Linked DNA regions of Homo sapiens. The protein of the gene in region 5 purifies or fractionates together with the protein of the main gene of each other region. This does not show direct contact. Each region holds a gene or a part of one and is shown on either strand. Other genes may lie near its edges. The genes, in order: USP3, WIPF2, ZC3H11A, CDV3 and TXLNG.

Region 1 (6,231 bases), on a different chromosome or scaffold from region 5:
AGTCTGAAGGGATTATTAGTGCCAGCCAGCCAGTCTGCTGTGTAGTCAGTGCTCTTTCTTTGTAGCCAGAGATGTAGGACTTGGGAGGCTCCTGAGAACAGCATCACTCTATTTGCAAGTTTGGTTGTAATGTCTGAGACTTGCTTCAGGAATTGTAATGTCAAAATATAATACATCCTTTCCCAGGAACCATCACTGACATAAAATAGCAGGTTGAGCAGGTTGGCAATGTAGTATTTGTGGGAAATTGAGGAAAGAATGGTTAACTGTCCACTGGAGGTTGAGAAAGTCTCAAAGAAGTGAGAATTGAATTGAGTTGCAGGGAGGCGAGAATTGAGTTGTAGGGAGGCAGGCATAGGAATGTGCCTTCTAGGTACTAGGATCAGGCAACAAAGGCATATTCAAGACTGTCTAGTCCTCTGCCACACCTTGCCTCCACTAACTTTCCCTGAAGGGGCGCTGTCTGCTACTGTCGCGGACACAAAGGCTGACTATGGCTTGGAAACTTGAGTACAGAGACAAGAGCGCTTTTCTGTACACAGCTAGGTTTCTGCTTGCTACCCAACTTTAATATATTATTTAAAGATACATACATGTTCTATAAAGACAAATGACATAAAAGTCAGGATAATGGCTACTTCTGGGCAGAGGAAGGGGAATTATCTTTGGTAAGAAGCACATGGCCACACAGGTTGTCCACTGCACAACTCTAGGAGAGGCCGTGCACAGAGACCCTGGCTCCTTGAGTACTCGAGAAAATCCAAGTGTGGGGTCCATAGGCATTCATATTTTTTCTACAGAATAACGTGTATTTTATATAGATTTATGAATATCTGATTGCATCAGGAATTGGCACAGGGGCCAAAGAGTAAATACAGTAAGTCTTCATTTAATGTCATCAGTAGGTTCTTGGAAACTGCAAGTTTAAAGCAAAATGACATACAGCAGGTCCTCCAATAATAGTTTCCTTTAACGTTTAGTTATAACATTGATGAGAAAAAAGTGGTTTATCGTTGCTTCACATAAGGTCACAATTTTCAAGAACCTGTCATGATATTAAGTGAAGATTTACAGTGTTTTAGGCTTTGCACCACATAAGGTCTCTGCCCCAGTGACTCAGTTTGGTGTAGTGTAAAAGCAGCCAGACAATAATGTAAACAAGTGGGCATGGCTCTGTTCCAATGAAACTTTATTTACAAAACCAGGTGGCTGGCTGGATGTTTTAGGACTGTAGTTTACTAAACCCCAGGTTACACAATTACATCTTTAAATGAAAAAAAATGTAGCTGTGATTTATCTAGGAACTGAGAGTACAGCGTCTGGACAGAGAAGGTTGATAGTGTAGCCTTCTGTGATCTATGTTTATTTTTAAATTATCTAAATTTGACTTTTTTTTATGAGTTTGGAGCTTTGTCCTGTATAATGTAACATATTGACAGAAAACTACAATTGAAACTTTAAATTCATCAGGAAACCATTTTATCAGAATTATCCAGATGAATTATCATTAATAGTAAAACCAACACAATTGATCATCACCAGATGTCAGGCATGATGCCAGGTGCTCTACACATTATTTCTCTTCCTTATAATAGTTCTTCAAAGTAGGTATTATTTTTTGTCTCCAGTTTGCAATTGAGAAAGGTTAACTTTTCTAAGGTCGTATAGCTAATAAAGCTGAGATTTTAAACCTGGGTCTTTTTTCTACAGTACATTGCCTCTACAAAAGGCATCTTGTTTTAATGCTGCCAAAATCAATTTGTTTAGATTGTCTTCGCAGTTTTACCGACTTAGAAGAACTTGATGAGACAGAGTTATATATGTGCCATAAATGCAAAAAGAAACAAAAGTCCACAAAAAAGTTTTGGATTCAAAAACTACCCAAGGTGAGTGTTGAATTTTGAGTTATGAAGCAATTTCAATGGGAAAGTGCTTGACTGCTAAGACCATGTCTATAACTTTACACTATGTGAACTGTTCTGTATTTTTCTCTAGGATTTTCAGTAAAAGCTAAACCCCTTACAGAATGAATGCATAAGGTATGCATGGAAGAATGATTGATAGGGCAGCTAAAATGTTATTTACTGAACTGATAGTAGTATCAAACTTTGACTGAAAGGTAAATTAGGTGTTCACAATCTTTGACCGCATCTCTGTCCTCCAGGTGCTATGCTTACATTTGAAAAGATTTCATTGGACAGCATATTTAAGAAATAAAGTTGATACATACGTAGAATTTCCACTGAGAGGCCTAGACATGAAATGCTACTTACTAGAGGTAAGGTGGTTACCTTTTTAGCATGGTGAAAAAATGGCTCTTCAGTAAGATTGTCATCACATGGAGAGGGTAGAGGTCATCGAGATACTGATGTCATTGACCACTGCTCCTTCTTCCTTGTTCTGTAGCCTGAGAACAGTGGCCCGGAGAGCTGCCTGTATGACCTCGCCGCTGTGGTGGTGCACCATGGTTCCGGGTGAGTACAACAGCCAGCTTCTGGTGGGTGGGAATACCTGGTGGCCAGCCCAATGACCTGCAGTTTTGTACCACTCTTGCTAGTTCTTCCTAAAAAATGGATTCAGATAAAGTAGGTGAAATTTCCTTCAGTTTTGGTGCGGAAGAGTACTCCTCAGATGATGTTGTGAAGGCTTAAGGGAAGGTAAATAAAAGTGAAATGAAGAATGGTTCATTTGAACCCAGTATTTACGACCCAGTCTTTATTTGTCCACAAACTCCAAAGTTGCTTATTCGTTTACCAACTGAAATTTAAATGGGGCAAAAGGGGAAATTACTTGGAATAACTTACTCCATATCATCTACTTTAAAGACTCATTTTAAGTCTTGTTAAAAAACATTAATTTTTTCCCCTGAAAGTTTGTATGAGGGGTCTAACCTTCTGGTTTTTGGTTTGAGAGTGGCTATTTTACCTTCAAACTTAAGACTACTATATGTGGGCAGACGACTATCCATGTTGAAAATCCTTTTCCCGCAGAGCTGTGATAAAGTAACGTCTACACTCACATAGTGTTATGAATGACAAGTCTGATTCTCACTACTTTACAGGCACCTGGCTTTTTTCTCCTTGGAGTGTATTCCTGCTTGGTAGTTGGTAGGGACACTTTTAATTTGGTGCCTTCAGCTCATGAAACTCTCTATACTGTAGGTCTGAAATCATTTGTTCTCTGTACCCCTATTATATGCATAGTGAATTTCCTGGATCTCCCTTCCACATGTCTTAAATACTCTAATGATTTCTGTCTGTGTTTCTAAAGACTGCCATGGCCTACTTTTCCAAATCACCAATTTGGGTTTCATCTGTATCCAAATAAAAGATAAGCTCCTCCATAAAATATTTATATTAAATCAGTCACATTTTTCTGACAACTTTTTCGTAACAGCCTATTCTTGTTTTATGATTGCACTATCTTTTTGAAACTATTAGCACTAATTTAAAAATGTAAAGTTCTCTTAGGTTTTCTGCATTCAATTCCTCAGGGTTGATTGCCTTGCTTGTTCTTCCCGGTATTTCTTTCCCCTCAAAAATGTGATTTTGTAGGCGTGCAAAAGGCTTGTTTTTAAAATTTGGTTTTGGTGGTTTATTTGGAATCATAGTAAATGATGAGATGGATCTTTATTATTTAAATAGGGTTTTCCTGGCACCTACAAAGGTCTGTTCTAGCTGCAGGCCTTCCGTCTGACTTGGAGGACTGACTCCAGGGTTGTGTGTGTGAGTGGGTGGGTCATGCTGATAGGGTAGAGCCCCTGATGACCACGGTGTCAGGGAAGGGTGCCCTTCTTTGTTAAGCTTAGTTTTTTCCTAAGATTCTGATGGGAAAACCTGGTACCTAGTTTTCCATGTTTCCGTAGGCTTTGACCTGTGCTTGTTAGGTTGCGAGTTCCTCATCTCTGTTTTCTCCATTAGTCCAGGGCCATCTGCTTTGTGTTCTAGCAAACCCTCGATTTCTGGTCAGTTTGGAGGAAGGTAAAAACATTAATTTAACAAGCATCTTAAATCAAAAGTCTAGGATGTATTCTTATTAAAATTTAAATCTAACATTATATAGTTGTACAGGTCTTTTTGTGATTTCTGAGGTTCTTTTTTCCTTTGGTCTTTTGCCTTTACAGGGTTGGTTCTGGACATTACACAGCATACGCAACTCACGAAGGCCGCTGGTTCCACTTCAATGACAGTACTGTAACACTGACTGACGAGGAGACTGTGGTGAAGGCGAAGGCCTACATCCTTTTCTACGTGGAACACCAGGCCAAAGCTGGATCGGATAAACTTTAATACCTCCTCCAAATCATCATTCACCAACCATACCAGAGAAACATTTCCAGTTTTCCACAAATACTTGATACAAGATTTAATTTCATTATGCACTTTTCAATTTCCTATTTTGGATTTAGTTTTGTCAATGGTAGTGACTTACTGAACATGGGCACCAACTAATTTTGTTGTTGTTCTACCAGAAAACCTCAGCAGATGTTTTGATTTGCTGCTTTAGTTGTAATAATTCAATTTTTATAGGTAGTTGTAAGAACTTAGTCTTATTTGACTTTTTTATTTTATGTTAATGTTTTCAGTTCTCACTTTGAGGCACATTTACATCAATGCTTTTGTTCCTCTCACATGCTGAAAGCAAGATGTGTTCCTTATTGTGAAGAGCGACACAACTGCCTGCTGCCTTTCCACAGCTATAATGGACATCAGGTTGACTCTAAATCAAGGATCATGTGTGCACAATACTTGTGGCCCACAAAATTTCACAATGACTGCTGAGGAATCATTCTTTTTGCCTGTAAAATATAACAAAGGGCATCATTAAGTAGACCAGGTAATTACTGCTTGTCTCTCAAGGCTGCTGTCTTTATCAGCACTAACTAAATAAATTTGTTGGTTCAGTTGTACTTGTCCTGCAAATACAAGAATTACTCTCTTTGTTGGTTTTTTTGGTTTTGGGGCATACTTGTTTGCGGGGAGGTAAGATGGGAGTAAAGACCAAATACATGTAATGTTTAAAAAAAATGCTGTGACTCACTGACATGGTATAGGTGTTACCAGTGAGGTAAAGCCATGGCGTCTGCCTCCTTTTGAATCAGTATCTCATTCCCCCTTAGTTGTACCACTGGAAGTCACGACATGTCCATTATAGACTTACTTACTGCTTGTGTTTGGCATCTGAGTCTGAGGTGTGACCCTCTGGGATTTACTTGGATCATCACCCGCACTTCAGTTTATCACTGGGGGGTGTGCTTCCACAGGAGGAAATTTAGAATCTTCGCTGCTCTGGGTTTTAACACCTCTCTCTGGCCTATCCTGATTGATAGGACAAGTTGAAAATACTGTTGGAGTAAGTAAGTGGAGTTTTCGTTTTGTTTTTTGGGGGTTTTTGGAGACAAGAGTCTCTCTCTGTTGCCCAGGCTGGAGTGCAGTGGCACGATCTCAGCTCATTGCAACCTCGGCCTCCCGAGTAGCAATTCTCCTGCCTCAACCTCCTGAGTAGCTGGGATTACAGGTGCCCACCACTACACCTGGCTAATTTTTTTTTTGTATTTTTAGTAAAGACGGGGGTTTACCATGTTGGCTAGGGTGGTCTCAACCTCCCTCCTGACCTCAGGTGATCCGCCTGCCTCAGCCTCCCAAAGTGCTGAGATTACAGGCGTGAGCCATCACGCCCAGACAGTTTTGTTTTTAAAAAACAGATTTAACTCAAAGATTCAAATTTGGAACCAGAATCCCATTTAAAGAAAGCAGTTGTGGTTTCTACAAGTGTTCTAAGACAGTCCTGTGGTGGTTTTTTTTTTTTCTTTTTTTTGGTTGGGGGCGGTGGGGGTTGGTAGACATAGCCTACCAATTCTCCACAAGGGACAAAATGTATCTTGTGTTAAGCCAACGAGACTTTCTGGCAATTTTTTTTTTTTTTTTTTAATGGAGTCTTACTCTGTCCCTCAGGCTGGAGTGCAGTGTGGCATGATCACAGCTCACTGTAGCCTCAACCTCCCAGGCTCAAGCGATCCTCCCACTTCAGCCTCGAAGTAGCTGGCACCACCACACCCAGCTAATTTTTAATATTTTTACTAGAGATGGGGTTTCACCACGTTGCCCAGGCTGGTCTTGCACTCCTGGGCTCAAGTGATCCACCCACCTTGGCTTCCCAAGGTGCTAGCATTACAGGCATGAGCCACCACGCCCAGCCTGTTCTATTAAAAACATCTTGACCTTTTTTTTT
Region 2 (5,897 bases), on a different chromosome or scaffold from region 5:
TTTTTCAGCTGCCCGTGGAGCCCCACCTCTGCCACCCATTCTCAGGTGAAGCCTGGCTTGGTCCCGTTCCTCAGGAAAAGGATGGACCTTCTCTTCTTCTCAGATGGTCCCTTCCATTCCCCTGAAACCTGCATGAGAGCTCCTAACATGTTTCTCCAATGCAATCAAGCCCTAGACTCCAAATGTCCTCCCAGCTCACCTCCATCTATGCATCTCATCTCTGGATTTGGTGATCAGACTCTATATTGACAGTAGGATCTCAAACCCTGCATCCATCCTTCCTCCAGCAAGCCCTGCTAGCCACATGAGGAACAAGTTTCCGTGTCTTCTGCCTTCCTCTTGGGGAAAGGTGCCTTGTTGTGATGAATTAACTCACTGTTAGGGCAGGGTGGAGAATGGTACTCCTTCCTTCTCCTGTCCACTGTGGGGGAAGCTTGGCAGGTATATTATATTTCATCATTTAGGAGGCTGGCATGACCAGGACTTATGGGTGGGAGGGGAGCATTTTTAGTGAAGCAAGAAAGGAGTTTGCCAAGAAGTGATCTGTTTTAAAGGTCATATTTGGAGAAAGGGCAAGGAATTGGGTCTGCTTTATTTTTGGGGGTATTTTGTTTTTGTTCTCACCTGCTGCCCCCCCACCCCACCACCCCAGGGATAAATTGGATATAAACACTAAATACTAATCAGTTGAACTTAACATTTAATAAAAAGAAAGGGTGAAATAAACTGAAGACCATTTTAGAACTAGTCAGTTCTCTGCAGCAAAGGGAACAGGAGCCATTTGAACCCTCTGGGACCCCTCACCCCACTGCTTCAGGGTGCTAGGCTGAGGGATGTTTTTCCTCCCCCTTACCGCCCATGCCCTTGAAAGAAAAGTCACTTTTTGTGGAGGGCATCATTCATTCCTGATTCACAAACCCCAAAAACCTCTGGTGGGAGATAGGAAGATAGGGCGTGGGCCTGGGCCTTAACCTCAATCTTGTGTCTGCCTCAGTCTTTTCTGACTGGCCCTGAAGTTGTCAGTGGCTCTTTCTGTCCTTCAGCCCCTGGAAGGTGCTCCAGGATAACAAAGAAGGGCAGGTTGAAGCCCCTCATGGAAGGAGCTGGCTTTGTGGGGCTGCAAAGGACTTTTAAGTCCTGCCTGTACTGAAGTTCACAGCCCACCTGACTGAGCAGACTCTTCCTGTTCCTTTCTCTACCACCCTTGCCTTCCCAGGACTGCACGGTTTAACACAGCAGAGTACAGAAGGGTGAAGAAGTGAGCAGAGGCTTATGAAGATATTCAGATACTCTTCTATGCCAGGAAGCACAAAGACTTTGTTGAGATTTGCCTCAGTTCAGTAGATCTTCCTTGGCAGCCAGCCATAGGTTGTTTCTTTGTCTTCCGGGTCCTAAAGAGCACAGAGAAAATGGAGGTCCCCAGTCTAGGTAGGAAGCTGATTGGATGAGGACTTCTTTTTTTCCGACAGCAGGATGGGGCTCTTGGGCTCCACACACCAGATGCTTTGGTTTTCTACAACTGTTGCTATGTGTAGAGGGTGCTCAGAGCGTGGCATGAGAGCAAGGAGACCATGGCTACTCTTTGAAATGGATGGGGAAAATTAGCTTAAAAATTTAATCACGAGATTGCGCCACTGCACTCCAGCCTGGGCGACAGAGCCAGACTCCGTCTCAAAAAAAAAAAAAAAAAAAAAATTTAATCACACACATCACAGGCTTAAACTGTCTTAGAGACCTTTCCAGTTGATTGGATCACAGGCTAGGGATCTGTGCATGGTGCCAGGTGAAACCCAAGTCTCCCCAGTGCTAGGTGAGGGAGGGCTCAACGGGGGTAATGTGTATGGGGTCTGCTGTCCTTTGCCATCCCCTGGACCATATTAACTCTGGGACAGACCATGATTAGGTCTGTCACCAAACTTTTCCTAATCATTTTTTATGTATCATTCTTCTTTCTAATCTGTTAGCAGTTATCTCCCAGAAGTATCCCTAGCATCCTGAAGCAAACAGAACTGCCGGGCGCTGTGGCTTATGCCTGTAATCTCAGCAATTTGGGAGGCCGAGGCGGGCGGATCACCTGAGGTCAGAAGTTCGAGACCAGCCTGTCCAACATGGTGAAACCCCGTCTCCACTAAAAACACAAAAATTATCTGGGCGTGGTGGCATGTGCCTGTAGTCCCAGCTACTGGGGAGGCTGAGGCAGGAGAATCGCTTGAATCCAGGAGGTGGAGGTTGCAGTGAGTGGAGATGGCGCCACTGCGCTCCAGCCCGGGTGACAGAGTGAAACTCCATCTCAGAAAACAAACAAACCAAACAACTGAGAGAGGGCATGCTAGTGGAGGGAAAAGGAGAGAGTACAAGAGTTGATACTGCATCAGAGTTCCAGGGCAGATACTGACAAGTGACTGAACTTTGACTGTGAAGTCTTCCCATTTATTTTTGAAATGGGAGTCGATGCCTTTTGTACGTTATCAAAGTGTTTTTTTTTTTTTCCTCCTTTACTCAGACATAGAGCATCAAAATATCACGAGTAAAGCCAAACCCCAGCTTTTCACTGGGGCTGATATCTTCCTCCCCATGGCCCACTGCCCCCTCATATTCCCCAGCACTTGGACTGTGTCACATGGGTATTGATTGTATACTTGTTGTCTTGGCCTCATGCAAAAAGGCCTGGGTCTAGATCTAGTCAGATGAGTTTTTTTTAGAGCATGTTGATGATACAACACCTGTTTAAATGTCTGCCTTATATGTTATTTGGTCCCACTGTTAATAATAGATTTATTACTATGTATATTTACTATTGAAGATGGGAATGTGATCTGCATAGTTATCAGTCTATTTTGTATGTTGTAAAAAGCTTCTAATTTAGGTTTAAGGTGGGCTGGCTACAAGAGCACTAAAACTCCTCACCTTTTAAACTGCTCTTTTTATCTGCTTGTGGGAATGTCGTCTCTTTCGTGGAAGATTGGGTGGTCTCATGTTGAGGCTGTTGCCCAGTCCCATTAACTCCCTTGTCCCCCCACAGAAGGAAGAGACATTGCCCAGCTAAGCATCAGGAAGCTGTGTTAAAAGCCCTTCTATGGGTTTGGTTTTGTGATGTTTTTCCCTAATGGGAAAAACGTTATAGTTGTTTCTTACTGCCCTGTCTGGGAAGCAGGGCAAACCTCCAGGTTTTTAAATGAGCTAGATGCCCCTCTTCCTCTTCTCTGGTCACTGAACCTGGACCAAAGCACTTTGATATTCCAGGTGTGATTTTCTCTGTCATGGGGATTTGCTCCACTGCAGAGCCCCATCATTTTCACAGCGTAGGCCAACAGAGTGAGAACCTAGGGCTACCCTAGCTGATGGATGTGAGGCTGCTGTCTACAGGAGCTCATCCCAGCCCTGTTAACTGGCAGTGGCAAGGATACTCGTCATCGGCCATTGCACTGGGGAACTCCCTCACCCCATGGCTTCCCAACTTGAAACCCAGATTTACCTCCAGGGAGAGGTGAGAAAAAAATTGTAAATAGACTTGCTAAAGAGCAACTCAGGGTTGGGGTGTGTTTTAATTCTCCTGATCACTTGAAATAATCTGTAGGCTGAGTGCTTATGGGGGTGGGGGAGAAGGGTGACTCCAGGGTCCTTCCATTTTGTGAAGCTCTGGGGGTGGAGTGTGGGCATCTGAGGCCCTATGATGGCACTACATTGAGCTGTCTGCCCTTCCGGAAACCCAACCTGCAATCAACTGCAAATCAAATTCTTCACATTCCAGCTACAGTCTTTCTTTCCCCATTGAATCTCAGTCCCTGGCCATGTGGTCAAGGTGGCTTTCTGTTAAGCTACCCTAATTTCGGGAATGGGAGGGGAGAGAGGAGGGCCATTACAACTCTGCCTTCAAGACTCATCTCTTAAAAACAAAACGAAACAAAACTACAACCACCATCAAAACCACACGCAAAAAAAAAAAAAAAAAAAAAAAGGATAACTTTAACCGAAGGAAGGGTTTGGTTCCATTCAACTCCACATTCATTGTGCCTTTACTTGCATTAGATTTCTGTGCTTTCTTCCTTTCCCTCTTTGAAGCAATTAAAATCTTCCTTGATAACTGCTGTTTCTTTCTACTCTTGTTTCTGGCAATTTAGTGGGTTCCTTCTCTAGTGGTCTTAAATCTCATTCCACTGGTGGCAAGATGGGGCCTAGCCTTCTTTTCACATGTCTAATCTTTTCCTTTCTCATGGTGCCCTCCATGGAAGTCACAGTCAACACTGAATAAATGACTAGAATGACACGTGTGCGTGCGCACGCGTGTGCGTGTGTGTGTTCATCTGTCTGCATGTGGATCAATTTCTTTTAGAAAATAATTTATTGTATGATTTATTTTGGAGTTATATTCTGATTACAGTGCTCCCTCTCCCAAATAGCATTGATTTTTTCCCCCCTCTAAAATGTATAATCTGGTCTCAGGTTGGATTCTTTGGTACATTTCTCTCTTCTGGATGCCATGCAGCTTAATTAAAACCTTGCTTAAAAACAAAAAGTGAAAATTGTGTACTCTTGTCTGGAATACCGCCTCAGGTGGTGGCACAGAGAGGGGAGAAAACCTTTGCCTCATAATTTGGGTAAGTGTAGTGGTTTGATTCCAGGTCCCTTGAAAAAGTAGATCTACTGAATTGGGCAGACTCATCTATAGCTTTCTGAGGGTCTTCTCTCCTCCTCTCCAGCTGTATTTTGAAAATTACAGTTCTAGTTGGCTGGGCGCGATGGCTCATGTCTGTAATCCCAGCACTTTGGGAGGCCAAGGCGGGTGGATCATTTGAGGTCAGGAGTTCAAGACCAGCTTGGCCAACATGGTGAAACCCCGTCTCTACTGAAAATACAAAAATTAACCGGTGTCATGGCGCATGCCTGTAGTCCCAGCTACTCGGGAGGCCGAGGCAGGAAAATCACTTGAACCCAGGAGGCGGAGGTTGCACTGAGCTGAGATCATGCCACTGCACTAAAAAAAAAAAAAAAAAAAAAAAAAAAAAAAAAAAAAAATTCTAGAGTTCTAGTTACCCTTCCTGGGAGATTCTGATGGTCCTTATTTTATTATTATTATTATTTTTTTTTGAGACAGGATGTTGCTGTCATCCAGGCTGGAGTGCAGTGGTGTGATCATAGCTCACCGCAGCCTCCAACTCTCAAGCTCAAGTGATCCTCCCACCTCAGCCTCCCGTGTAGCTGGGACCACAGGTGTGTACCACTATGCCTGGCTAATTTTGAAAATTTTTTTGTAAAGACAGGGTCTCCCTATGTTGCCCAGACTGGTCTCAAATTCCTGGGCTTAAGTGATTGTCCCACCTCAGCTTCTCAAAGTGCTGGGATTACAGGCATGAGCCACCGCACCCAGCCAGTCCTTATTTTATATTTCCACCTAACTCCCCTTTGCCCACGATTTCAGGGAACCTAGGAGGCTTCCTGGCCTTGTGACCTTTTCCTTGAATCTCTTATAATTCTTTCTACCTGTGTTGCATGGCAGATTCTCAGATTGAGGCTAAAGAAAAGAAGGGTGGGGACAAAGCATACAGAATGTGTGTATCTGTTTTTATGTGGGTGTTGGCTGTTTTTCGTCACTGCTTTTTAAGCTGAATCTTAGCTGGTTTTCTTGAACTTTGACTTTAGGTGTAAAAATTCAACCAGACATTCTCTCCTTACTGTGGTCAGCTGACATCATAACCACTAAGGCTTAATGAGCTTAACTTGCACTTTCATCACTAGCAAAGGTCTTGAAGTTATTTCTCTTACTGATTCATAATGGGTGTGTGTATGAATCACTCTCACATAATTTAGATATAAAAACCTATGAGGATGAGGGAGGGAGGGGAAGAAAAAAAAGGACTCCTTTCATTTTCATCCGTACTTCCCAGATGGGCTGAATC
Region 3 (6,231 bases), on a different chromosome or scaffold from region 5:
GAGCCAAGACCTCCATTGTGTGGCACTTCTTTCATGTTGACCCCCAGTACACCTGGCGGGCCATTTGTAACCTCTGTGAGAAAAGCGTCAGCAGGGGTAAACCAGGTAGCCATCTTGGTACATCTACTCTTCAACGACATCTGCAAGCAAGGCATTCACCTCATTGGACCAGGGCCAACAAGTTTGGAGTTGCTAGTGGAGAGGAGGACTTTACCTTGGATGTGTCTTTATCTCCCTCTTCTGGAAGCAATGGAAGCTTTGAATATATTCCTACTGATCCATTAGATGATAATAGAATGGGCAAGAAGCATGATAAATCAGCATCTGATGCCCTAAGGGCAGAAAGAGGGAGATTTCTCATCAAAAGTAACATTGTCAAGCATGCTTTAATTCCTGGAACTAGAGCCAAGACATCTGCCGTTTGGAATTTTTTTTACACTGATCCTCAGCACATCTCAAGAGCTGTGTGTAATATATGTAAAAGAAGTGTGAGCCGGGGTAGGCCAGGGTCCCACTTAGGGACTTCAACACTTCAACGACACCTGCAAGCCACACATCCTATCCATTGGGCTGTTGCCAACAAAGACAGTGGTGCTGTTGCAAATGGATTAGATGAAGCTGAGACTGAGAGAAGTGATCTCTTGAGTGATACCTTGCATGGAGAAAAGTCTACAGGCAGCCAAGATTTAACAGCTGAGGACCTTAGTGACTCTGATTCAGATGAACCTATGTTAGAGGTTGAAAACAGATCTGAAAGTCCTATTCCCGTTGCAGAGCAAGGCACTCTGATGCGTGCGCAGGAGAGAGAAACAACATGTTGTGGAAATCCAGTCTCAAGTCACATAAGTCAGGCAATTATCCAAATGATTGTGGAGGATATGCATCCTTACAACTATTTCTCAACCCCAGCCTTTCAGAGGTTCATGCAGATTGTGGCCCCTGATTATAGGTTGCCATCAGAGACTTACTTTTTCACTAAGGCTGTACCTCAGTTATATGATTGTGTCAGAGAAAAAATTTTCTTAACTTTAGAGAATGTTCAAAGCCAAAAGATACACCTGACTGTTGACATATGGACCCATGACCCATCCACTGACTATTTTATTGTGACTGTACACTGGGTTTCTTTGGAAACTGCGTCTTTTCTCAATAATGGCAGGATCCCCGATTTTAGAAAGTGGGCAGTGCTTTGTGTTACAGGTTTGGCTAAAGACTGTTTGATAACCAATATTTTACAAGAATTAAATGACCAGATTGGTCTGTGGCTTTCTCCAAATTTCCTTATCCCTAGCTTCATTGTTTCTGACAATTCCTCTAATGTGGTACATGCAATCAAAGATGGTGGTTTTACCCATGTGCCATGCTTCCTGCATTGTTTAAATATGGTCATTCAGGACTTTTTCTGCGAGCACAAAAGCATTGAGAATATGTTAGTGGCTGCCAGGAAAACTTGTCATCATTTTAGTCATTCGGTCAAGGCCCGTCAGATACTGCAAGAGTTCCAAAATGATCACCAACTTCCATGGAAGAATTTGAAGCAGGACGAAACTGGCCATTGGATTTCTACTTTTTATATGTTAAAATGGCTCTTGGAGCATTGCTACTCAGTTCACCATAGTCTTGGTAGAGCCAGTGGAGTTGTGCTCACCTCCCTTCAGTGGACTCTAATGACTTATGTTTGTGATATTCTTAAGCCATTTGAGGAGGCTACCCAGAAAGTGAGCGTGAAGACCGCAGGATTGAATCAGGTGCTACCCCTAATCCATCATCTACTCCTTTCCCTGCAGAAACTCAGAGAAGATTTTCAAGTCAGAGGTATTACTCAGGCCCTCAATCTGGTGGATAGTTTATCTCTGAAACTTGAAACAGATACCCTACTAAGTGCCATGCTTAAATCCAAGCCCTGTATCTTGGCTACTTTGTTAGATCCTTGCTTTAAAAACAGTTTGGAAGACTTTTTTCCTCAAGGTGCTGATTTAGAAACTTATAAGCAGTTCCTTGCAGAAGAGGTCTGTAATTATATGGAATCTTCACCAGAGATCTGCCAAATTCCAACTTCAGAAGCTTCTTGTCCCTCAGTTACAGTGGGAGCTGATTCATTTACCTCATCTCTAAAAGAAGGCACCTCCAGTTCAGGTTCTGTTGATAGCTCAGCTGTAGACAATGTTGCCCTTGGAAGCAAAAGCTTCATGTTCCCTTCTGCTGTAGCAGTTGTGGATGAGTACTTCAAAGAGAAGTATTCAGAGTTCTCAGGAGGTGATGACCCTTTAATTTACTGGCAGAGGAAGATAAGCATATGGCCGGCTTTGACCCAGGTTGCCATCCAGTATCTAAGTTGCCCCATGTGTAGTTGGCAATCTGAATGTATCTTTACTAAAAATAGCCACTTTCATCCAAAACAGATCATGAGCCTGGACTTTGACAATATAGAACAACTGATGTTTCTGAAAATGAACTTGAAAAATGTTAACTACGATTATTCTACGTTGGTTCTGAGCTGGGATCCTGAGCAGAATGAAGTTGTTCAAAGCAGTGAAAAAGAAATACTGCCTTAATTTCTTTTTCTCCATTTAAAATGGGCAACTTTTTGCTGTGTTACTGTATCTTAATAGCTGTAGTTGTTAAATATAATCATTATCTTTATAAACACATCTGGGGAAACCTGAAATCACACAAGGGCTGAAAATTCCTCAGAGGCAATATAATTTTGATAAAATGAAGATTAAAGATTTCATAGCTATAACTGTGGCGCTAGCACTTGAAAATTTTGCTTATACCAATGAGAGAGAAGATATTTTTAATTAAAAAAAATATAGTGCAGCATTGAAAGGCCTTAGGCTTTCTTCCTGGTAGATTGAACTAGTAATTGGTTTTAAGTAAAACTTCCCCCACCATGGGAAATTTTATTGCTCTGAAATCAACGAAATGAGAAAAAAGTACACTGGCTGGCATTCCTCCTGCCCCTGTTTTTCTGTTTCCTTAAAAACCCTGATGCTTAATTACAACTTGGCAAAAAGAAAACCCGTGAAATTGTTTTATATTTGGAAATTTCTAATTGCCTCCTCATACTGGTCAGCTTTATAATTTCAAATTGTTGAGTGTGATAGTGTTACCCTTTAGAATTGGATCTTATATAAAAGGGAAATATTAGAAAACAATTAGGAAAATATACTTTTAGTCTTTGAAATGCCTGTTTTAACCTTTATAAAATATTATAAAAATAGATTGTGTAGGTACTTTCAAATAATTTATGGGTAAAAACAGACTAAAATGTTTGCAAGAATTGGAAAAGGTTGAATGGGAATTGTAATGAGAGCCCTTTGAACATGCTTGGAAAAACCCAGTAGACATTTCCCAAAGATTGTTTCTGTAATTTTAGGTAATCTTTTTAAAAACATACTTAATGACCCATTATACTGTATTAACTGTGCGGTTGTTTTGGCCACTGAATTCTTAATGAAAACTAAGCAGTCGGTATTTTTATGTGTTAGGAATCATTGGTGAAATGAGTGAATTGATCTCATTTTAAGATCCCTTTCTACTCTGAAAGTATGTTTCTGAGATTGAGTAGGAGGCCAGAAAATGATGACTTTTAGTAAAAGTCTATTAAAAGTTTCAGACTGAATAACTAATGTGAGATCCCAATTTTTCCTTTTTTTCATTTTAGATTTGGGGATATTCCCTGCCCAAAAAATTCCTGGAAAATTGACTAGTATTAAGTGTGAGTAAAAGGTGTCCACTTTTTTTTAAGTTTTGATTTTAGTTTTGTCTTGGATAGTATTTGGCAAGATTTAGCCTAGAAATTATGTAGTATTTATTACATAAGAATCAAAATTGCTTTGTTACTGGGCTGGTTTCAAAGTTTAGAACTCATTTCTATGTATCAAAATCGGGTTTTTTTTGGTTTTGATTTTTTTTTTTTTTAAATTCTTAAATGGTAAATATGCCATTGTGAAATGAAATCTCAACTCCAAAAGTTTACCCTTTTACTAACTGGAGTAAATGTATACTTACAAAGTCTTTAGCTGTAGCCATTAGTAGTAAAGAATTTGGACCTAGGCTGCGTAAGCAAGCCTTTCCAGGGCCACTATTTAATGGCAAACCAGTGATACTGGTGTTGATACAAAATAAGAAATAAATTTTCCCTTAGATAAAGCTTTCTGTGTTTTGACAGTGCCAGTTTAGAATGGCTATAATGCTGCTCTGCCTTCTACAGCTTGCTGCACCACTCTGTAGTTACTCTATTACCATACGTTTCTATCTTTTTTGGTTAAACACTCCCTGATGACGATGATGGATATATATACATACATCCATATTATACATAATGATATATGTGTAAGGATTTACCTTCGTCTTTATTTTGTGGGCTGGGCAAAATTTAGTGTAACAATAACTTCATGATACTTTGGTATAAGAGTAAGTTCTTTATTTTTATAATGAACCCAAATCTAAAGTCTTTTATAGTGCATTTTAAAAGGGGAAACTTATCCAAATGTTATATTTCTATACATTTTTGTGTATATGTGTGTGTGTATAAGCCAGTTAGTATATATCTGTATGTATATTATATACATAAAACACTATATTTTTACATACAAGTATGCTTTTATTATACAGATAATAAAGATGGGGGAAGGTTTCTGTTTTTTTCTTAATAGGTGAAGAAATCTTGAAGACCAGAAATTGGATCTTACTGAAAAACTGATGTTTTTTTGTTTTTTTTTTAAATTATATTGTTCAGCTATGGAAGATGGAGTTTTTTTTCATGATCCTTTAACTCTCAAGTTCATCTTTAAATGAACTCTTTTTTTTTGTTTTTTTTTTGTTTTGTTTTGTTTTGTTTTTGAGGAGATAACTAACCCTAGCTGTCTCCAGTCTGACAAAGGTTATTTGAATGGACTTAATCTCCCAGTAGTTGGGAGATGTTTTAAAAACACATGCTGTGTTTGAATTGTGGCTGAGAGGTTTTCTTGGCAATGTGAGGAGGAAATTTTTTTCTGCCTCATTATTATTAATTCATGGATTGAGTGTTGGTTCGACCTACAGGCGTAATAGATTGGAACTCAGTGAAGACACAGATGTTCCTGTTCAGAGCAACCAGCTAATGTAAGTGGGGAAGCAGGCATTTTTCGCATGAAAGGAGTGAACATTCTTGTCATTTAAGGCATAATTTTCATGGATCAGTAAGAAATTAAAAGGCCATTGTTCAGACATTTTTGCTTGTACATAATTGTTTACAAATTTTTAGTTTTGGGATGGAAACATATTTTTTTCTTTCTTTTCTTTTTTTCTTTTTTGGAGACGGAGTTTTACTCTTGTCCCCTAGGCTGGAGTGCAATGGTGCCATCTTGGCTCACTGCAACCTCCTCCTCCCAGGTTCAAGCAGTTCTCCTGCCTCAGCCTCCTGGGTAGCTGGGATTACAGATGTGCACCACTACACCGGATAATTTTTGTATTATTAGTGGAGATGAAGTTTCACCATCTTGGCCAGGCTGGTCTGGAATTCCTGACCTCAGGTGATCCACCAGCCTCAGCCTCCCAAAGTGCTGGGATTACAGGCATGAGCCACCGCCTCTGGCCCATAGTTTTTCTTTCTTTGTTTTGATAATATATGTACATTGTAAAAAAGGTAAAAACAGCATAGCCAAAGTGAAATCTTCCTGTAATTCCATCTCCTTGGAGAAAAGCACTGGGTTATTTTGTTTCGTTTTGAAACAGGGTCTTGTGCTCTGTCACTGAGGCTGGAGTGCAGTGGCATGATCATAGCTCACTGCAACGTCAAACCCCTGGGCTTAAGAGATCCTATTGCCGAAGCCTCCTGAGTAGCTGGAACTACAGGTGTGCCCCACTGTACCTGGCTACTTTTTAAAACCTTTTGTAGAGATGGAGTTGCTCTGTGTTGCCCAGGCTGTTCTCAAACTCCTGGGTTCAAGCAGTCTTCCTGCCTTGGCCAACCAGTGTTGGGATTACAGGTGTGAGCCACCATGCCTGGCCTCCCATTCCTTTTTAAATAATGATTCTAGATGATTTTATAATCAAGTTCCAGTAATAAACTCTAATTGGGATTTTGACTTGAATTACATTCGATGTGTGCATTATTTTTTGGGGAGAAGTAATTTCTTTAATCCTCTATTTATTCATTATCCAGGTCTTCTGTGCCTTAGTAGTTTCATAGTGTTTTGGTTTTGTTTTTAATTTAATGTGGGTCTTGCATACTTCTTCATTTTC
Region 4 (6,231 bases), on a different chromosome or scaffold from region 5:
TAGGAAAAGCCACCATTGTCATGAAAAATAATTTTATGAAAATGTTGGTAGTTTCTGCCAGGTGTATCTTCGAGGTGAAGAGTTGCAAAAAGGACGTTCGATTTAGCCATTATTGTGCTTTAATATCCCTGTTGTCAGTATCCCTTTTGTCAAGAGACAAAAGATAAATACACTTGGTAATTTAGGACATGTAAAGTTACACAAAATAATAAAAAGTAATCCAGCAAAAAGAGAAATAATCAAAGATGCCTTGGAGAAATAGATTATGACTCAAGTCAATTCAAGAATAAATTAATTAGCATTGAGAAAATACTGCAAGCAGTCTTAAGATGGTATGTTACCACTGAGGGTATCTTTTCCATTTATAACATCTGGAAAGCCAAAGACTGAGATCTTATATATTTTTTTTAAACAGGTGATAAATACATGTCTGGTGTTAGGGGCTAATTCTATCCTCTGTAAACACTGGACACAGACTTGTTTTCATCTGCTGGAATGTGAATTCTAATTCTGAGAGTATTTTATGTGCGAAAGGATTGGCAAATAAAATTATACAACTTTCAAAACTCTTCATTTGCTCACTAAAAATATGCTTACCTTAAATGCCTGTTTGTACACTTTGGTGCAAGGAAAATTTTGTAATTGTGCTCTTAATCCTTCAGCTCACCTTCTTCTCTGCATTTCAGGTTGTATCATCCTCTCTTCCCTCCCTTAGTCGCTTGAGGTGGTAACTGGGGTCTTGCTCTTATGTGGGGCTGCTATAAATGATCAGGCATATTGTCACAGAGGCACATCAGGTTTTTTTTATTTTTATTTTTTTGAGACAGTCACGCTCTGTCGCCCAGGAGGGAGTGCAGTGGCACGATCTCAGCTCACTGCAGCCTCTGCCTTCCGGGTTCAAGGGATTCTCCTGCCTCAGCTTCCCCAGTAGCTGGCATTGTAGGTGTGTGCCCCCATGCCTGGCTCATTTTTGTATTTTTAGTACAGATGGGTTTCGCCATGTTGCCCAGCCTGGTCTTGAACACCTGACCTCAGGTGGTGCACCCATCTTGGCCTCCCAAAGTCCTGGGATTACAGGTGTGAGCCACTGTACCTGGCCTCACTTTTTAAATAAGACGTTCAGTCTCGAAAGAGATTGACTTCTTCAGGGTCGTACAGATAATCATGGATAAAACTAACGATTTGGACTGAAAATTTTCTTGGTGATTCCTTAATGAATTTACATCTTTGCTTTTCCAGCAGTGAAAAGGAAGAAGACGATAATGAAAAGAGACAAGATCCAGGTGATAACTGGGAAGAAGGTGGAGGTGGTGGTGGAGGTATGGAAAAATCTTCAGGTCCCTGGAATAAAACAGCTCCAGTACAAGCACCTCCTGCTCCAGTAATTGGTAATTTTACTATTTCAGTTTCAGAAAGATGTCTAATTTATATATGATTTTATATATGGTCCACTTTCAACTAAGTGCATGATTGTGGTAGGGTGAGGAGGAGAGGCTCCTTTCCATTCCTGGTAGAGTGGGATGTGTATATATCTTGTTAAAGACTTTAAAATCCTAAATAAAAGGAATCTGGAAGTTAAAAGACATGCTTTTGTCCTGTATGTTGCTGTAAAATTTATATAGATATAGACTAGTCGATTCCAGTTTCATTTATTGGAATTGAGCATTTCTTCTAATATTCTCGTTAAATATTAACTACTTGCTAATGGAGGAAAAGGTAAGGAAAAGACTTTAATTTACTAGAATCCAAGGTCAGCTTCATTTAGGATTTTTAGTGGTAACTACCCTAGGGTTGGGTTTAACTCCAAAAGTTTTCATGAGAGAGAAAATTCCTAAAGCTTTTATCATTTAAAATATTTTTGACAGCTGAGTAAAGACAGAAAGACAAGGGGCCCTTGTCTTTCACTTGTGCTTTGTCTTTTTCATTCCCTATTTAACTTTCCTGTTCTTTGAAGCATGAATTCTCAGCAGGGCCAATTTTATCATTCTCAAGGTGGTAAAAGTTGCTTCTTATGGAATGAAGGAATCTTATACCTTAACAGTCATTTGTGGCCCACGAAAAGACTAGAATGCATAAACAGATGTATAGTATATCGCAGTATTAAAATTTCATGGAGTGGGGGGCAGTTAGGAAACAGATGTCTGAAAGGTCTCCTTAGGGCAATAATGAAAGTTTAAGAGCACTACTTTAAAGAAGTGTATACTCATTATTTTATTTAGAATGTTATAAAGAATAACATATCACTCCAAATCTTGTTATGCAGAAATCACAGATAACTACTCTATGTTAAATTTTTATTTTTATATTTTTTAGAGACAGGGTTTCACTCTGGCCCAGGCTGGAGAGCAGTCATGCAATCATGGCTCATTGCAGCCCCTCAACTGCTTGGGCTCAAGTGATCCTCCCACCCCAGCCTTCCAAGTAGACTACCGGGGCATGCCACCTGTTTATTTTATTGTAGAGATGAGATCTTAACTATGTTGCCCAGGCTAGTCTTCAACTCCTGGGTTCAAGCAATCCTCCCACCTTAGCTTCCCAAAGTGCTGGGATTGCAGGTGTGAGTCACCACACCCGGTCTTATGTTTTTAAATCATCTTTAGAATCTTTTTGTTTTGTTTGTTTTGTTTGAGACAGAGTCTGGCTCCTGACTTCAAGTGATCTGCCCGCCTCGGCCTCCCAAAGTGCTGGGATTACAGGCGTGAGCCATTGTGCCTGGCTAGAATCTTTTTTTCTTTTTCTTTTTTTTTTTTAAGACAAAGTCTCACTCTCTTGCCCAGGCTGGAGTGCAGTGGCACAATCTTGGGTCACTGCAACCTCCGCCTCCCGGGTTCAAGCTATTCTCCTGCCTCAGCCTCCCAAGTAGCTGGGATTACAGGCGTGCACCACCATGCCCCGCTACATCTTTGTATTTTTAGTAGAGACGGGGTTTCACCATTTTGGCCAGGCTGGTTTTGAACTGCTGACCTCAGGTGATCTGCCTGCCTCGGGCTTCCCGAAGTGCTAGGATTACAGGCTTGAGCCACTGCACCCAGCCCTGGCTAGAATCTTAAAAAATAACCACACTGGCATTTCATTAAAAAATTCTTTACATATGGCATCTTAATCAGTCCACCAATCAGGTAAAGAAGTAATTCATATTTACTGGTAGGGAAACAGGACTAAAGTCCTATTCTGAGAGGCAGTCCCTGATGAGACCAGTCATCCAAGCCCAGCAGATTCCTTTTCTACTTCCAGTAATTTGGCTTGTGGAACTCATCATTTACGTAGATTACTAAAGTTGTACGTGGAGGAGGAGTTAGAATACTACCCTAGAAAAATACAATGTTTTCACTTTTCTTTTTTCTTTTTTGAGAGCCGGAGTCTCCTTCTGTTGCCCAGGCTGGAGTGCAGTGGCTCAATATCGGCTCACTGCAACCTCTGCCTCCTAGGTTCAAGCCATTCTCCTGCCTCAGCCCCCTGAGTAGCTGGGATTACAGGTGCCTGCCATCATGCCCAGCTAAGTTTTGTATTTTTAGTAGAGACAGGGTTTCATCATGTTGGCCCAGCTGGTCTTGAACTCCTGACCCCAGGTGATCCACCCACCTCGGCCTCCCAAAGTGCTGGGATTACAGGCGTGAGCCACCACGCCCAGCCTGTTTTCACTTTCAGACATTTTCTGAAATGAATTCCCTTCTGTGGTCTGACCCAGAGACCCTGGTATTGTTTTTTCTATAATTGTTAAATGATTGGGAATGCAAGAATAGCTTATTAAAATGCTGAGCATTTAAATAGTTTATCTAAAAATTGTTATAAAATATTAGTTACAGAAACCCCAGAACCAGCGATGACTAGTGGTGTGTATAGGCCTCCTGGGGCCAGGTTAACCACAACAAGGAAAACACCACAAGGACCACCAGAAATCTACAGTGATACACAGTTCCCATCCCTGCAGTCAACTGCCAAGCATGTAGAAAGCCGGAAGTAAGTACTATAATTAATTGCATTTTGTTTGGGACTTCTGTTCCTAGGCCAGGGAGTGGGATATAGGGGATGTGCATACCCACCCAAGGGAGAGACTACTCCTTAACTAATAAAGCCTGAGCTTCAGCTGACAGGCAGGTGAGAATCAGGGTGGGACTTCATATGTCCAGAAGGGAGGAAAGGGGGAGGGCAAAGAGCATTGGAGACACTTTGTCTTCTGTCTGCAAAAGTTTATCTTAGCCCTGGTTTATGTTGTTTTATAGCAATGACAAGTTTTAATGTAGTTAAAATTCTTTTATAATTAAGTGGCTTTTGCTCCTTATAATATGGAAACTAGAAATATAAAAGCGCTGTTTAATTGTATTCCCAGTTAATGTGACTATAGACAGAAGATGTTGGCATTTATAAATCTAATATTAAAATAATCTTATTTCAGCAGGTACTTAAAATGAATGCTACCTGGAATTAAATGACTACATATGGCACATCTACATCTTACTTTAGGGACATGAATTTTTTAAAATAAATAAAATGGGAAGAAATGTAAATGACATCAGATGGAAATGTGTTTTTTGGGGTGGCTTTTAGAATAAATCCCAGCCTTTTCACCACTTTGAGAGCACAGCTGGCTTGAATTTAAACCTCCACGTGGACTTGCTCCTCTGCTCTGTCTTAAAAAATGTGTAAGGGACCTTGGGAGGGCAGTGATTCACCACACTCGAGTTTCTTTACCTGATCTAATCAGATCCACTCCCACAAAATCGATGTGAGGAGAAATCATTGACTAATGAGTAGAATTTACTTGAATGAGAAAATTGTTACCCTTGTGCATAAAGAGAGAGATGTATTATCTATTACTTGCTAAAAGTAAGAGTCTTAGGAGGAATGTCATTACACAGCTTTTAACAGTTTTCTTCAAGTTTGTCCTGAAATAGGGTCACAGTTAATACTGTTCAGTAGAAGATAGGACCCTAGAGCTTCAATACAGCGTTCTGTGTTTTCTGTTTGAATTGAAGCCTTAAAATGGTTTGATAAGGATTTTCTATATGCCTCCACTCCTACCCCTCCCCAGGATTCTTCTAAGGGGTGGCTTTTTTTTAAATTCAAGGACGAATATTTTCAAAAACCCTAGTGAAGAAGAAATATTTACTGATTACATTTCTTTTCCCTTAGGGATAAAGAAATGGAGAAGAGCTTTGAAGTAGTAAGACACAAAAATAGAGGTAGGGATGAGGTTTCAAAAAACCAGGCCCTTAAACTTCAGCTAGACAACCAATATGCTGTGCTTGAAAATCAGAAAAGCAGCCACTCACAATACAATTAAGGAATGGGCTTTGCTAACCCTTCTGAGGTAACTAGACTGCAGCTAACCACCACCAACAGCCATTCATCATCTGATCTCTGCTGGATCTACAGACACCGATGCAGACCACTCGATTTCATGACCGGCCCTATTGCACTATGGAAGTTAAAGTGTCACGACTGCTCTATGCATATTGGATTTAGGGGAATTTTCATTGTTACATAAATGTGTGAACTAGTTTCAACAGTGTTCTTTCATATTTACTCTGCAAATACAAAAAACCAAAACCTGCAGCCAGTGGTCATTTCAAAATCTTTTTATGTTCAGATACTGAGCCTTCATAAGGGTTGACTACCTCAGATTTGCTGCACTCATTGTGGACTTCATGTGGATCACAACTTCTGGATAAGAAGATTACAACTATTAAGTGTCGATGTGAACCTTGCAACCAGCTCTACTGGATTCTTATCAGAAATCCTGCATAAAAAGTCAGCCATCTGGGTTCTGATCTGCTGTAAAAGATGAAGATTTAAGTGACCTTAATTAACCTGTCCTGTGCCCTACCCTTAAGGAATACTCTCTGTAGTAGGCTGTTGTTATATTAGACTTCCTGGAACACACTGCTGAAAAGAACTGATGTGTTCAGATCATCTGTGTAGGGCTGTGATTTGTAATTTAAACTAATTGTATTCTGAGGTAACCACAAAATAAATTCAACCAAACTGGGGTCCACCAAGTGGGGGAAGGGGAAGGGAGAGAATAATCTTGGGGGTTTTTTTTTTTTGGTAATTTTTTTATTTGGATAGTGCTTTTTTGTTTTGTTTTTGTTCTGCATTAAGGCCTTTTTTGCTTTGACTTGAAATAAGTTCTTTGACAGAGCATATTGCTTGGTTAATTAAGTAACCTAAAGTATGCATTAGGATTGTGAAATGTCTCGTGAGTATGCCAATCCTGAGGGTGGAACCAAA
Region 5 (6,008 bases):
AGCAGAGCCTGTGGACGGGGGCTTTTGCACAGCGCTTCTCTGACTCTTGGGCTCAGCCTCCAGGTGCGCTCCCAGGGCTCTTTTCGAGGAAGTGTTCAGCTCCTTGTGAGAATCCAGGGCAGTACAGGGCTGCATCACAGGTGTTGCTAAATCCCTGTTCGCCGCTTTGATGGCCGCTTTGATGGATACCTGCTCTTTCAGGACTTCCACCTTCTCATTGAGCTCATTCCTTTCTGTCTGAAGAGCCCTGCACAGCTTCTCTAACCGTTCCAGTTTTATTTGAAGGGCCTTGTACTCTTTATCACGGACTGTTTTCTGTAAGAAAAAAGAGGATTTCTGTAACCCTGTTAAATATCAATCAGGTTACAAAAAAATTAAGCCAGCTCAGCCATATTGGACACTTCTCACCTATGGAACATGTTCCGTCTCTTCAGCCTCCTAACATTCTAGCTAGCTAGCATGACTGCACCCATAACTATACCGAATGAGATTTAGCATATTGTTTCAGGGGGACAAAATTAAATTCCTTTTGTCACTTTTTTTTTTTTTGAGACAGAGTCTTGCTCTGTTGCCAGGCTGGAGTGCAATGGCGTGATCTCGGCTCACTGCAACCTCTGCCTCCTGGGTTGAGGTGATTCTCCTGCCTCAGCATCCCGAGTAACTGGGACTACAGGCGCGCCCCACCACGCCCAGCTAATTTTTGTATTTTTAGTAGAGATGGAGTTTCACCATGTTGGCCAGGATGGTCTTGATTTCCTGACCTCGTGATCTGCCCGCCTTGGCCTCCCGAAGCGCTGGGATTACAGGCGTGAGCCAAAGATAAACTTTTTAAGACATTTCCTATTGAACTATTAAGGAAATTCAAGATATGACAAAGAGTAGCAGACACAAAGGCCTACATACAGAAAATGACTCACTTCTACATAGATTTCTCCTCTTCCAATTTTTAGATGAGAAGTTTGTTGTTTTTTTTGAGACAGTCTCGCTCTGTCGCCCGGGCTGGAGTGCAGTGGTGCAATCTCAGCTCACTGCAACCTCCGCCTCCCAGGTTCAAGCAATTCTCCTGCCTCAGCCTCCTGGGTAGCTGGGACTACAGGCACGTGCCACTACGCCCAGCTGATTTTTGTATTTTTAGTAGAGACGGGGTTTCACGATGTTGGCCAGGCTGGTCTCGATCTCTTGACCTCATGATCCGCCTGCGTCGGCCTCCCAAAGTGCTGGGATTACAGGCGTGAGCCACTGTGCCCAGCCGAGAACAAGGTTCTTGTACACATGTGCCCCAGCGTTTTCTTTCTTTCCTGAAGTGTTATATAAAACAGGCAAAACGTACTTTGTTGCTTTTTTTGAAAGCCTAATAAGTCAAGCTAGAAAGGCCCTACATGCTGCATCAGCATCACCTGCATGCTTGTTAGAGAGGCGGATTATCTGCCTCCGCCCCCAAGAACTAGTGACTCAGCCTCTGGGAGAAGCCCAGCAATCCTGGTCTTAACAAGCAGGCGTCTGATGCAAGCTCAAGTTTGAGAAATCACTGCTGTAGAAGAAAGCAAAATCTAGATGTTTTATGCTATCTCCGACACAAGCCTGGGCTGATTAACTGGGTGGTAGGAAGCTCAGCCCCTCACTCAGGGCCCTGTCCCTAACCTAACTGCCAGGAAAGAAGTCACAGATTCTACCCAGCAACTCATCCCCACCCCCGCCCCAACGCGGGCTGGAGTCCTCAACTATGGTAGTAGTGTTACAGCACACGTCCCCGGCCCCGATAGGTACCTGAACTCAAGGAGTCCCCATGACTAAGACTACACCTTAGTCGCAGGAAACCATCTCACCTCTTCAGCCATTTGCAGAAGTGCTTTATTATTGTTTTCCCATTTGGTACGCCAAATTATTGTTTCTTTTTCCAGTTTTTTAATTTTCTTTGTCATCTGTGAATACAATTGCACATTTAAATTCTAAGTTCCCTTCCTTATCTCTACTCCCTGTCCCAGTACACAAAAATGTTTCTGTGCCCCTCCCCTCCCCCATCCCTGCACCTCCCTCACCCAGCTGACAGCTGTGTGTGTCTTTATAGAAGTAGCTGTGCCTGCCTGTCGGTAGCAGAGCTTATCTCAGAAGCTCCTAGGGTGGAACCAAAGAAGGGGGTTTGTATTATGAGAAAAACAAATTTAATCTCCTCAATTTCAGAGGCAGCAGCACATGGAGGAAGCTGTCAGCCACCACACTCTGAACTCAGTTAAGGCTGAAGTGCAGCTTTCATCCCAGCTCCGGGTAGCGAGAGACAAGCCCTCCTTCTCCCTAAGTTGTATGAAAAAATGCCCATGACTGAGTTTTCTGTCCATTAAACGAATTCCTCAGATTCTTGGGAGGACAGCGATCTTCAGCCCCACAAGACATTAAGAACTGACACTCCACCACAACCTCCAAGAACACATCAGTTTCAGAACTCAAGGCAGCATGATTCAGGTAAGACTCCAGTGACCAAGAAGATAAAAGTAGTTAATACCTCAGCTTTGGTCATCCTCACAATTCGTGAGGCTGATTTACTTCAGATTTTGCTAAAGATAAAGTGGGTCCCCAAATCAGGGAAGTGTTAAACCTATGCTACCAGAACACAATTTTCAGAAATTCAGGATGCATTTATCCATGCCTGTAGCTAGCTACTTTCTCAATATGCCTTCATCTACTGTTGACTGCACACCAGCTCTGATCCAGGTCGGGGCATTGAGCCAGGTGGTGTTAAGGGAAACAAGGATAAGACAGAGCCAGTGCCCTGTGCCTTGGGTAATTACCCACAAAACTGTAACACAAGGCAAACCGGGACAAAGGCCATGGGAAGAGCTGGTGGAAGACCTAGGTTGACTGCTGACCCATGGTGATCTCTGCAGCCACGGACAGAGAGGAATGTGTTCCAGTCCCAGAGGACCAGAAGGATGGCAGATCCAGGAGGCGGGAACTCTCTGTTCCACCTCAACAGTGAGTCTGTGCTGGCGTCCAGCTATCACCTGCACTGTGCCTAACAGCGCCCCCTCAATTGCAGCCTCAACTGAAAGGACTGGCAGGCAGAACGAATCTGCTGCTCATGGAATTCTCCAGATTACCAGGTCTAAAAATACCTGGAGGTGGTAATTTGAGCACCAATCAGCCACATGGTAACTGAGTACATGTTAATGTGCCAAGCACTGTCTGAAATACTCTATTTCATGAAGGGCAGGTTTTTGTTACCAATTTTAACAGTGAAGGAACAGAAAGGTTTAACAATTTGTCCATAGTCACACGTTCTATGATGCAACTGGGACATTAACCCAGGGCGCACGGTCTCCACCACTATGTGAGATCTAATAATAGTCATGACTAACATCTACTGAATGCTAACAAAGTGCCAGGCACTACTGTACTTCTCCCCAACCCAACGCTATGTTTTTAAATCCCCCATTTTTAAGGGAAGGATGCCAAGTAAAATAAGGCTGGCTGGCTGGCTGGATATGCATAGAATTATATACTTTGGTCCTTAGCTTGATCTCAAGGATATCTCTTTCCTTAACATAGGCAGGAAAATGCAACAGAAGCAAAAGAATTGGTTGGGTCAGGGGAGAAAGAATTCAGTGGGAGTAAAGATAAGAAAAACAGAGAAGCTAAAAAAGGTAGAAACACTGATATATCAACCAACCAAAATATATGATTATTATTCTGGGCTTGGATGTCTTTCAATAGTTAATCTCCAAGGACACAGAGTTTTATGAGAGGGCTGAGGATGATCCTCTAAAGTGGTTAAAACAAACAAAAAACAGCAACACACCAAAAAAACCACCACTTTATTTCTAACAAGTTGCATTTAATATAGGATTTCACTATAATAAAGGTAGAATTCTAAGAGCATAGAGAACATTAGCTACTTGGGGTACATTGAGGGCAAAATGACCAAAAATGCCACTGGAGGATCACTAAAGAGAAAATGAAGACAGTATCATAACAAAGGAAACTCAGCAAAATAGTAATCACACTTAAAAGAGCTTATACAAATTCCATTTGATATACTATTCTACTAAAAATATGTAAATACCTTTTCCATTTCCTGTCTGAAGGTTGTAAACAGTTCATTGCTTTTTGCCATGGTAGTCTGGAATTCTTCAAACTTATCCATATAAAGAGAAAGCTATAGGAAAAAAAGTATGAAACATTCTGAGTTCCATGCAAACAATTCCAGTTCCCAAACTTTCAAAAGAACGTAGTATGGTTACTTATTACAAGTGATAGAAATACGAACAAATGCACATCCAATCCTTGGACACCAGACATAGATGGCTAAAGTTCTGACAACCCACAGAAATGCATTAAAACTGAGGACATTCTGTTGACTTTAATATTAGATCTCCACCCATTGGTCATAACACAGCCTGAAGGATGTGGTGACTATAAACGTCATGCATGTGGAGTGCTCGCCCAACTACCCCTCTCCTGCCAAGTGAAAACTGTCCTTGGGAAAAGATCATTCCTTTAGAATACCACCTGCAGAGTTCTTAGTTTGATAGCAATGGTATCTCTTTCCTTAACGAAGGGAGGAAAATGCAACAGAAGCCAAAGAATTGGTTTGGTTGGGGAAGAAGAATTCGGTGAGAGTAAAATTAAAAGAAAACGTAAAGAGATCTACTCTTAACATAGTCCTACCCTCAAGGAATTTTTATTTAAGGATGAGGGAAAAATGCTAACCAACAAGGCAAGCAAAATATAAAATGGAGTCACCATCTTCTCCCCCTTAGAAAGGAGTCCAGAGAAGTATACGGGGAAGGGCACACTGAGGCTCAGGATACTTAGGGGAAGCTTCATGTGGGAGGCCTGAGCTGGCCCTCATAGGTGAGCTGAATGAGTTCATCTTAGACCAGGAGGGAACCTTTCAGAGACTATCCAACATAATCACATTATTTTCAGGATAGGGGAACAGAGAGAGACCCAGAGGAATAAAGTATTTTGGGCAAGATCACACGATAGATATAAGAAAAGCAGAGAAGAATAAAGGATCTTCAGAGGCCAAGAAACAGCATAAGCAGTGCTGGATGCAGAATATTCACCAGCACCACCTAGCGCACAGGATGCAGGGCAGGGTGGAATATGATGGTGCCCGCCCAGCCACAGCCAGCAGGGGGACGGGCCATCCCGGAAGCACTTAAGCAGCACGCACTGTGGTGTGGTGGACGCAGAAGCCAACTGAAAGTTAGTCATCTCACAGTGACCTTGTGCTTGTTAGGCTAGACGAGGTCCCTGTGAGATGGCCAAGCCACATCTGCACAAGGGCCTGGCCTGGGATGAGGACAAAGCAGGAAGAGAAATGCAGGGTGACCTGGAGAACACACAGGATTTGTTAGCAGACACTGACGGGGCCTCTGACATGACAGGCCTGGAGTTGGGGCAAGAGTGGTGCTCACGCAGAGGGAGGGAGCAGTATTAGTGCCTGAGGGACATTAGAAGTTACAGCAGTTTTGATGTGGTCCTTTAGGGTCTCACTCTGTCGCTCAGGCTGGAGTGCAGTGGCGCAATCACGGCTCATTGCAGCCTCGACCTCCCTCTTGGGCTCAAGCAATCCTCCCATCTCAGCCTCCTGAATAGAGGGGACTGTAGGCACACACCACCACACCTGGCTAATTTTTGTATCTTTTATAGAGATGGGGTTTCACCATGTTGCTCAGGCTGGTCTCAAACTCCTAAGCTCAAGCGATCCGCCCGCCTTGGCTAGGATTACAGGCATGAGCCACTGCGCCTCGCAGGCACAGTCCACTTTTATTGAAAATGGAACATCCAAATAAAGACTGTCCCATGTGAGAGTTCAGTGCTGGCCCAGTGGGTAGCCAATAAGTGGCCACTATTATCACACATGGACCTCCATGGCTAGATTACAAAACAGCGGGTGAAGACAGCACAAAGACTTTGAGTTACACCAGCAGATGCTGGGAAATGACATGGTGAGGGCAGAGAAGGTGAGACATGCTTGGGAAGGACAGCCACATTTAGAGGAAAAC

What was found.
Region 1: the proteins of TXLNG (region 5) and USP3 fractionate together in Homo sapiens (co-fractionation; one large-scale study listed by BioGRID). This does not show direct contact.
Region 2: the proteins of TXLNG (region 5) and WIPF2 fractionate together in Homo sapiens (co-fractionation; one large-scale study listed by BioGRID). This does not show direct contact.
Region 3: the proteins of TXLNG (region 5) and ZC3H11A fractionate together in Homo sapiens (co-fractionation; one large-scale study listed by BioGRID). This does not show direct contact.
Region 4: the proteins of TXLNG (region 5) and CDV3 fractionate together in Homo sapiens (co-fractionation; one large-scale study listed by BioGRID). This does not show direct contact.

Annotation. Positions count from the first base shown.
Region 1 is NC_000015.10:63,586,538-63,592,768, forward strand, and holds part of USP3 (ubiquitin carboxyl-terminal hydrolase 3), read left to right. Parts: intron 1-1,172; exon of another isoform or gene 1,173-1,767; coding exon 1,768-1,886; exon of another isoform or gene 1,887-2,164; coding exon 2,165-2,278; exon of another isoform or gene 2,279-2,406; coding exon 2,407-2,474; exon of another isoform or gene 2,475-2,563; intron 2,564-4,123; coding exon 4,124-4,289; 3' UTR 4,290-6,231. UniProt on the Homo sapiens protein: Deubiquitinase that plays a role in several cellular processes including transcriptional regulation, cell cycle progression or innate immunity.
Region 2 is NC_000017.11:40,278,177-40,284,073, forward strand, and holds part of WIPF2 (WAS/WASL-interacting protein family member 2), read left to right. Parts: intron 1-8; coding exon 9-49; 3' UTR 50-5,897. UniProt on the Homo sapiens protein: Plays an active role in the formation of cell surface protrusions downstream of activated PDGFB receptors. Plays an important role in actin-microspike formation through cooperation with WASL.
Region 3 is NC_000001.11:203,797,908-203,804,138, forward strand, and holds part of ZC3H11A (zinc finger CCCH domain-containing protein 11A), read left to right. Parts: coding exon of another isoform or gene 1-2,555; exon of another isoform or gene 2,556-3,667; 5' UTR 3,668-4,186; coding exon of another isoform or gene 4,187-4,285; 5' UTR 4,286-5,109; intron 5,110-6,231. Other genes in the region: ZBED6 (zinc finger BED domain-containing protein 6), read left to right, coding at 1-2,555; uncharacterized LOC128031836, read left to right, coding at 4,187-4,285. UniProt on the Homo sapiens protein: Through its association with TREX complex components, may participate in the export and post-transcriptional coordination of selected mRNA transcripts, including those required to maintain the metabolic processes in embryonic cells.
Region 4 is NC_000003.12:133,582,763-133,588,993, forward strand, and holds part of CDV3 (protein CDV3 homolog), read left to right. Parts: intron 1-1,239; coding exon 1,240-1,388; intron 1,389-3,800; coding exon 3,801-3,960; intron 3,961-4,396; coding exon of another isoform or gene 4,397-4,412; exon of another isoform or gene 4,413-5,133; coding exon 5,134-5,284; 3' UTR 5,285-5,590; coding exon of another isoform or gene 5,591-5,597; 3' UTR 5,598-6,231.
Region 5 is NC_000023.11:16,835,735-16,841,742, reverse strand, and holds part of TXLNG (gamma-taxilin), read right to left. Parts: exon of another isoform or gene 4,151-6,008; coding exon 4,058-4,150; exon of another isoform or gene 2,883-4,057; intron 2,461-2,882; exon of another isoform or gene 1,923-2,460; coding exon 1,827-1,922; intron 1,299-1,826; coding exon of another isoform or gene 1,224-1,298; exon of another isoform or gene 1,181-1,223; intron 316-1,180; coding exon 1-315. UniProt on the Homo sapiens protein: May be involved in intracellular vesicle traffic. Inhibits ATF4-mediated transcription, possibly by dimerizing with ATF4 to form inactive dimers that cannot bind DNA. May be involved in regulating bone mass density through an ATF4-dependent pathway.